Linked DNA regions of Homo sapiens. The protein of the gene in region 1 purifies or fractionates together with the protein of each later gene. This does not show direct contact. Each region holds a gene or a part of one and is shown on either strand. Other genes may lie near its edges.

What was found. The genes of interacting proteins can lie anywhere in the genome.
Region 2: the proteins of SYNPR (region 1) and COL13A1 purify together in Homo sapiens (affinity purification with mass spectrometry; one large-scale study listed by BioGRID and IntAct). This does not show direct contact.

What each region holds. Positions count from the first base shown.
Region 1 is NC_000003.12:63,613,808-63,617,307, reverse strand, and holds the end of SYNPR (synaptoporin), read right to left. Parts: exon of another isoform or gene 2,134-3,500; intron 2,085-2,133; coding exon 1,827-2,084; 3' UTR 384-1,826; downstream 1-383. UniProt on the Homo sapiens protein: Intrinsic membrane protein of small synaptic vesicles. Probable vesicular channel protein.
Region 2 is NC_000010.11:69,920,406-69,923,905, reverse strand, and holds part of COL13A1 (collagen alpha-1(XIII) chain), read right to left. Parts: intron 2,025-3,500; coding exon 1,971-2,024; intron 1,199-1,970; coding exon 1,112-1,198; intron 105-1,111; coding exon 51-104; intron 1-50.

The DNA of each region.
Region 1 (3,500 bases):
TGCTAAACCATGTGTAGTCTTGAGGTCTGAAGCTTCTTGACTTCTCCCTAACTAGTTCAAACCTCTCTGACAGATGTACCTGTGGAATCCTGTGCCTCTGTTTGTTGCACTCAGCTTAACTGGGGTGTGATTATTTTAATGCCTGTCTCTCCTAATAGAGTGTAAGCTTCTTAACATACTGCCTGTTTTTGTTTTTTACTACTGCATTACCAGTGGCATGCACAGTGACAGGTGCATAGAATGGTGGAATGAATGAACAAACCTCACTGGGCTCATGAAACAAGGACAGGGTGACAGATTGGAGACACTGTGCATTTAACCCTTGTTTGTCATTGTTAAAGCCAACCAGGTTCTACTGTTGTAATTGTTCACTGTCCAGCCAGCACTGTATGCAATAACTTTATTAACATCAAATAGATATCACAATACAGTTTTATCCAACGGGATTCAGAAACTGGTTACAGATATCATCTAAGACACAAGGCTGTTTTGTGCTAAAATGCTTCCAACATCACTAATCACGCAACGAGTTTATACATCAATAACAACTTTTATCTGGAAATACAGATGCTCAGCTTGCCCTCTCTATTGGGTCCTGGTGTTTCAGCTGAGTTAAAACGAGGAAGTGACGATTGACATTTTCTTGATAATGAATACATTCTGGAGAATATTTCATGAGAACTCTCTTTGGGGTACAGAGTGGCATATGGAAGCCATTTTTAATTTAGGGGCTACACTAAAATCAGAATTAGTAAGTTTAGCTGTGACTTGAGAATTTTTAATAATTACATTGAGGAGCATATTAGCTTTACAAATAAACAGGATTTAAAAATATAGCTGGTAGTAGAGGTTCTACAGAATATTCTTTATAAATAAATACTTCAGCAAGGCGGTACCTTGACTATGGTATCTATATCTGCATCTCCATTATTCTAAGAAAACAACACTCCATAAACACAAAGAGTTATTGGGCCGTGTTATTTATGGTCCACAAGATAAGAGCCACAAAACACCATAGAAGGTTACAAGAATGCAAATATTTAGCTAAGTAAATAGAATAAATATTGGGCAGTTATCATATGTAGCACTAAATGTTTACTAATGGGGGAAAAGAAAAACTTAAATTTTAATTACAATGCATTCAGAACTTGGGTAAAGCCAGAGAGACAAATTTGCAAAGTATACAAAGTAGTGAATATATTCCTATAAATATCCATTTGACAAATTCATGGTGCAAACCAGAAAATTTTCATAAACACAGTTCAAATGTTCATTGTGTGGGAAAATGCTTATTCATGCACTTAAATCATATGATTTATCACATAAAAAAAGAATAATTTTCTGAAACAAATAACTTAGAGACTCATAGTCCTATAGGACTTAAAACTAAAAAAAAATAAGACATGCATGTTGTGATACACCAAATTGTCTTCTAGAAATTATTATAACATCTTTCACATCAAAATGCATAAGAAAACTCAACGCTATTTGATTTACTTTATGCATATTACATACTAGAGACTTTAAGCTACAAAATACTTCTACTACTTTAACATACATACAAAATGACCATGAAAGTATCTGTATATATAACAAGGTACTCTCCAATTAGCCATCTATGATGAATAATATATCTCCTCATGTCGCCTCATCTCTAAGTATCATTTTTCACAACCCAGGACTTGCTGCCTTAATGAAGACTAGAGAGCTCTGATTTACATTCAATACTCTCTGCATTAATAATTGATTGAAACCCTTAAAAAATTCTTCTGCCACTGAAATGGAAGATGGTGAGGCGACTGCAGAAGAATGCAAATGCTACTCTGTTAAATCTGATTGGTAAAGGAAGTGGGGCCAGTAGGCTGTTGGCCAAACTCATCTGAGGTTGGCCCCAAACTCGCCTGCTGACTGTACCCACTGCTTGATCCATAGCTGTCTTGGTTGTAACCACCTTGATTATAGCTGCTGGAGTGCTTCTCCATTGGATCTGAAAGATATCTCTGTCCCGAAGAATGCCAGCCGGTCTCCTTGAAAACAAACCATATGTTTCCAGCCCAGAGAATAAAGTTCAAGAATCCAAAGACCTGAAGGAGAATCAAAGCCAATGAATTGATAGACTAGACAAAAACCCAAGAAAAATTTCAATTTTGGAAAAATCCTTCACAATACAAAAGATCACTTTTCACTTTAATGTTGAGTCCGCTTCCAAGTTTTCCATTTGGAACCGGTATTTCATTTAGAATATTTGACCTTTATTAGACGCACTACATGTCAGGCACTACATAAAGGGCTTTATGTGTATCAATTCACTTGCTCTAAGAATCAGTCTAGGAAAAAGTTGCTATTGTCATACCCACATTAAAGATGTGGAAAGCTTGTCTAAGGTCGCGTGGCTTGCTGAGTAGTAGATCTGTGATCCAAACTCTCTTCTGGTTCCATAACTGGAAACCTTACTTAAGGCATCACTTATTCTCCAAATAAAGTATCCTTCATGGTGTGTAAGATTATTTCCAGATGGCACAGGGTTGAGAATTTTCACTTTAATAATGGTGCATTCATTTATAAGGCTATCTTCTCTTTATGGTTAGAGATACTGCTTTTGCTTTTCCATTTGTTGTAATCATATAAAGAAAGTGAGTCAATTAAAAATATAGGGTAAGCAATGGTACAGGTGATATGCAAATAAGCATATGCATGATAGCATATTGAGAGGTTGACTGTTCGAATAATTGCACTTTCTGTGCCTCTCACAGGGATAAGTGAATGTTGAAACCAGACTGTGAATAAAGTGCAGGTTTCAGAGAAGTATAAAATATTTTCTTAAGAACTGGATGTGAAACTTTCCTATGGAAATTCCTCTTACTCTCCAGGAGGGTGTCAGTGAGCCAGAGGACTGGGTGTCGCCTCCCCAGGGCCTCAGGTTTGATGGAAGCAGAACGGTTTGCTATTGCATGAGGCCCGAACAGAAGTCCTCATTCCATGACTTGTTCTGCAGCCTTTTCCAAGGCTGGTTGATTGACTTGGGAATTAACTACAGGCAGTCTGTTTTAACAGCCCCCTAATGGAGACAGGTAACAGTAGTATAACGCAAAGCTGTGATAACATTAAAGTATATTTAGTCATCACCCCCTAGCGTGACGCTGACCAATCAAAATGGACTTGGGCAGTGGCCACGGTCCTGGAGTAGGGTGCTGGAAGTCCTTTGCTGGGTCAATATCTATCCCTTAGTTTCTGGACAGTGAGATGATCCACAGTGGCCTGTGGGTAGTGGTGGCAGAGGGGGCACTGGTGTAGTCAAGAAGCTGGGCCTTGGAGACTTGGATCTGAGACTATCAAAATATTTCAATATTTTAGCAGCACATGAATGGAATCTTAGGCTTGGAGAAATCTCTATAGGCTTTGAAATCAAAGGCACCCTGGGGACTGTACTTTCTTGCCCTGCTACCTGGGACAAGGCATTTAGTCTGTAGACTTCATTTTTGTTTTTGTTTTGTTTCTTG
Region 2 (3,500 bases), on another chromosome or scaffold:
TCCCAAGCTGACCCTCATCTTGCAGCTCTGGGATGTGGGGGTCTCTGTACCTTGTCTCCTGGCTGCCCTGGGGGGCCAACCTGGCCATCGACACCTGCTTCTCCCTGGGGAAGAGGAGAGAGTTGGGATGAGGGCATGCTGGGCACCTGGACAGCTGCTTATGAGGGAAAAGATGGTCTTGCCGCTCATGCCTAGATGTTGCCTTGGACTTCTCTTTCCCTGATGGCTTCTGCACCTCCCACTCTTCCACCTCCCTGACTCCTACCCATGCTTGGGCCCAGCCTGGGTCTTGCTTCCTCTGGAAGCCCACTCCTGCTTTCCTTCCCTGCATTCTGTACCCTTTACTGGTGTCCACTCTGCCCTGCCAGGCCCTCCTAGGCCCACACAGAGCCCAGCCCATGGCAGGTGGATATGGGCGGAATGAATGAGTGTATTGCCCCAGATGATGTAGAGTAATTCATGCTTTCCTTCTGAGCTAAGAAACAGACCCCCTTCATTTCTCAGTGCTGCTAAAGTAAACCAAGCAACATAGGAGCCATCTGCTTTGGGGAACCCAAATCTTACCATTGCACTTTTCAAGCAGCAAAAGGAAAGTGAGGGCAGTTTCCATTTGCAGCTGCCTCCACTGCTGCCACCTACCAGATGTGCTGGTACCAGGTGGGGCCAGCTGATAGTTGACCTGCAACCTACTCAGAGCCAAGGTGGGGGGCCTCTTGCCTGTCCTAAGGCCCTGAAGCCATTGGTCCCTTGCTCAGTTACAGCATGGCCATCAAGGTCCTGCAGCCATCAATCCTTGACTCAGTTACAGCATAGCCATGAAGGTCCTGCAGCCATTGCGCCCTGACTCAGTTACATCAGAGTCATCTGAATCACTGGGACCATCCATCTGCCCCAGGGAAGACATCTCCTCTGAAAGGTCAAACTGTTATCTGCTTGCAAGCAGGAGCTGGGTCCAAATGGCCTTTTTGGAATCCATGGGGAAAACCACACATCTGGAGCAGGGGAAGGCTAGAGAAGGCGGGATGTCCGGGACGTAGAGTCCCCGAGAACAGGCTGAAGACAAAGTCCCCAGGTAAGCACCTCCCCAACACCAATTCCAGGGAACACTCACCTTTGGCCCTGGGGGCCCAGGGAGCCCTGGAGGGCCAGGTTCCCCTCTGCCTCCTCCAATGGAGTTGCCAGCATCGCCTTTCTCTCCCTGGGGGTGGAAGGTGGAGTTAGCATCCCTGGTGTGGAGGAAGGTCTAGGCTGAGCACTGGAGGGACACTATGGGGTGTGGGCCCCAGGATGTCTGGGGACCAGGGGCCTTCAGAATCCCAGATTTATCTGATCCAGCTGTGGGATTTGAAGAGAGATTGGAAGTGTTTACTGAAGGGCAGCAGGTTTAGAGCTGACACAAGGGATCCTTCAAAACTGGGTCTGGAGCCGTGTTTCTCAAAGTGTATTCCACGGAACACTGTTCAGTGGGTTGAGAATATTCAAAATGTGGAATAACATTATTATTGGTGGCCAAACTATGTAAGAAATGAAACATTAAATAAGCTTTGCAGACCCCATCACTGCAGGGTGCTCAGGCCTCTAACAGGCTGAGGAGCACTGTGACTTTCCAAGGGTCCCATCTTATTATGCATGTCTCCCCTTATTTTGGCCTCATCTTTTTTTTTTTAATTTTTAAATTAAATATCTTACAGAGTTCATGAACTGTGGGATGCATTTGCAGAGCTGGTACCAAGAAATCTGACCAGGTCATCACTACCGAATTCTTTACATTTCGGCATTTTATTTTTGCCAATCAGGGCCTGCCTATGGCACCTCTCCCTCGACAAACAGAATCTGGCTGTGTTCCAGCTGCCTTTCCTGCAGTCTGGGAGACAGACACGTCCAATGCTGGGGCCTGTGTGGATGTGCAGGGCCAGGTATGGGATGTGGGTGACGAAGGACTTGAACCCTCCATTCAGAGCAACACCTACCTTCTGCCCCAGGAGGCCAGGAAGCCCAGGGGAGCCTTCAGCCCCCTTCTCACCCTGCAGGGAGATGCAGACAGTGTGGGGGTTAGGAACTGTTTCTGCAGCAGGTTTGGGAAGCCACCAGCTCCACAGCTTAGGGCCTTGCCTTCCCTTGCTCCTGCCTCGGTGCCCCTGCCCCCAGCTGGCTTTCTGAAGGGCTCCACTTCCTCCCGGCCCCCATCCTGACTGGCTACTTCCATGGGTCACTTCGCGTTGGTGACACCTGCATGACTGCTTTCCTTATTCCCATGTGGCCCGGGCCCTTGTCATTCATGCTGGGGAGAAGTCACACTGGCCACAGATCATAACAAAGGCCAGAAGCATCTAGTCCATCCTGGCGGTCTCCTGGGAGAGGTGAGCAGTTCAGAACGCCAGTGGTTGGGCAAGCAATTCCTTTTGACCACTCTGTTCTTCAGATTCTTAATGCTTAGCAACTAAGGGCTCCCAGTCTTTTCTGGCACCCCCTTCTCCGCCTCTAGCTATAACCAGCTCACCTTATTTGGACATAGGGTCATTGCAAATGTAATGAGTTAGGATGAAGTCCCATGGGAGTAGGGTGAGCCCCTATCCAATGTGCTGATGTCCTTTTTATAAAAGGGAGAAATTTGGGCACAGACATGCACACAGGGAAATGCCATATGGAGATGGAGGCAGAGATTGGGGTGATACGTCTATAAGCCAAGGAATGCCAAAGATTGCCAGCAAGCACCAGAAGCCGGGAGAGAGGCTTGGAGCAGATTCTCCCCCTTGGCCCTCAGATGGAGCCCGCCCTGCTAACACCTTGCTTTTGGACTTCCAGCTTCCAGAACTGTGGGACAATGAATTTCTTCTGCTCAAGCCACCCAGCCTGTAGTACTTTGTTACCACAGCCCTAGCAAAATAATACACTTCCCTACCCAGCTTCTTCCACTACGGAAGAACTCTTTTTCCCCCATGACATGAATCAAAGAGCCCCTTAGAGATGCTGAACCCCATTCTCATTTCACAGATTTGGTGAGGGAAGCCCCAAGAGGTTACGTGACTGGTGGCCAACCCCTTACTGAGTCAGTGGCAGAGGCAGGTCGAGCCCGTCTCCCTGATGCTCTGCCTTCTTTTCACAGAGCAGCTGTATTGGTCAGCTCAGGCGGCCATAACAAAGTCTGGGTGGCTTTGACAGCAGAAATGTATTTTCTTACAGTTCTGGATGCTGGAAGTCTGAGATCAGGGTGCCAGTATGGCCAGGTTCTGGTGAGAGCCCTCTTCCTGCCTTGAATATGACAGCTTTCTTGCCGTGTTCTCACAAGGCAGAGAGGGAGAACGGTCTCTCAAAGGTCTCTCTCTTTCTTCCCCTTCTTCTAGGGCCACCAATCCTATTGGATTAGGGCCTCGACCTTATGGTCTCATTTAACCTTAATGACCTCCCCAAGGCCCTATCTAAATACAGCCACACTGGAGGTGAGGGCTTCAACATATGGGTCTGGGATGGACATATTCAGTGCACAGCAGTGTCCAATA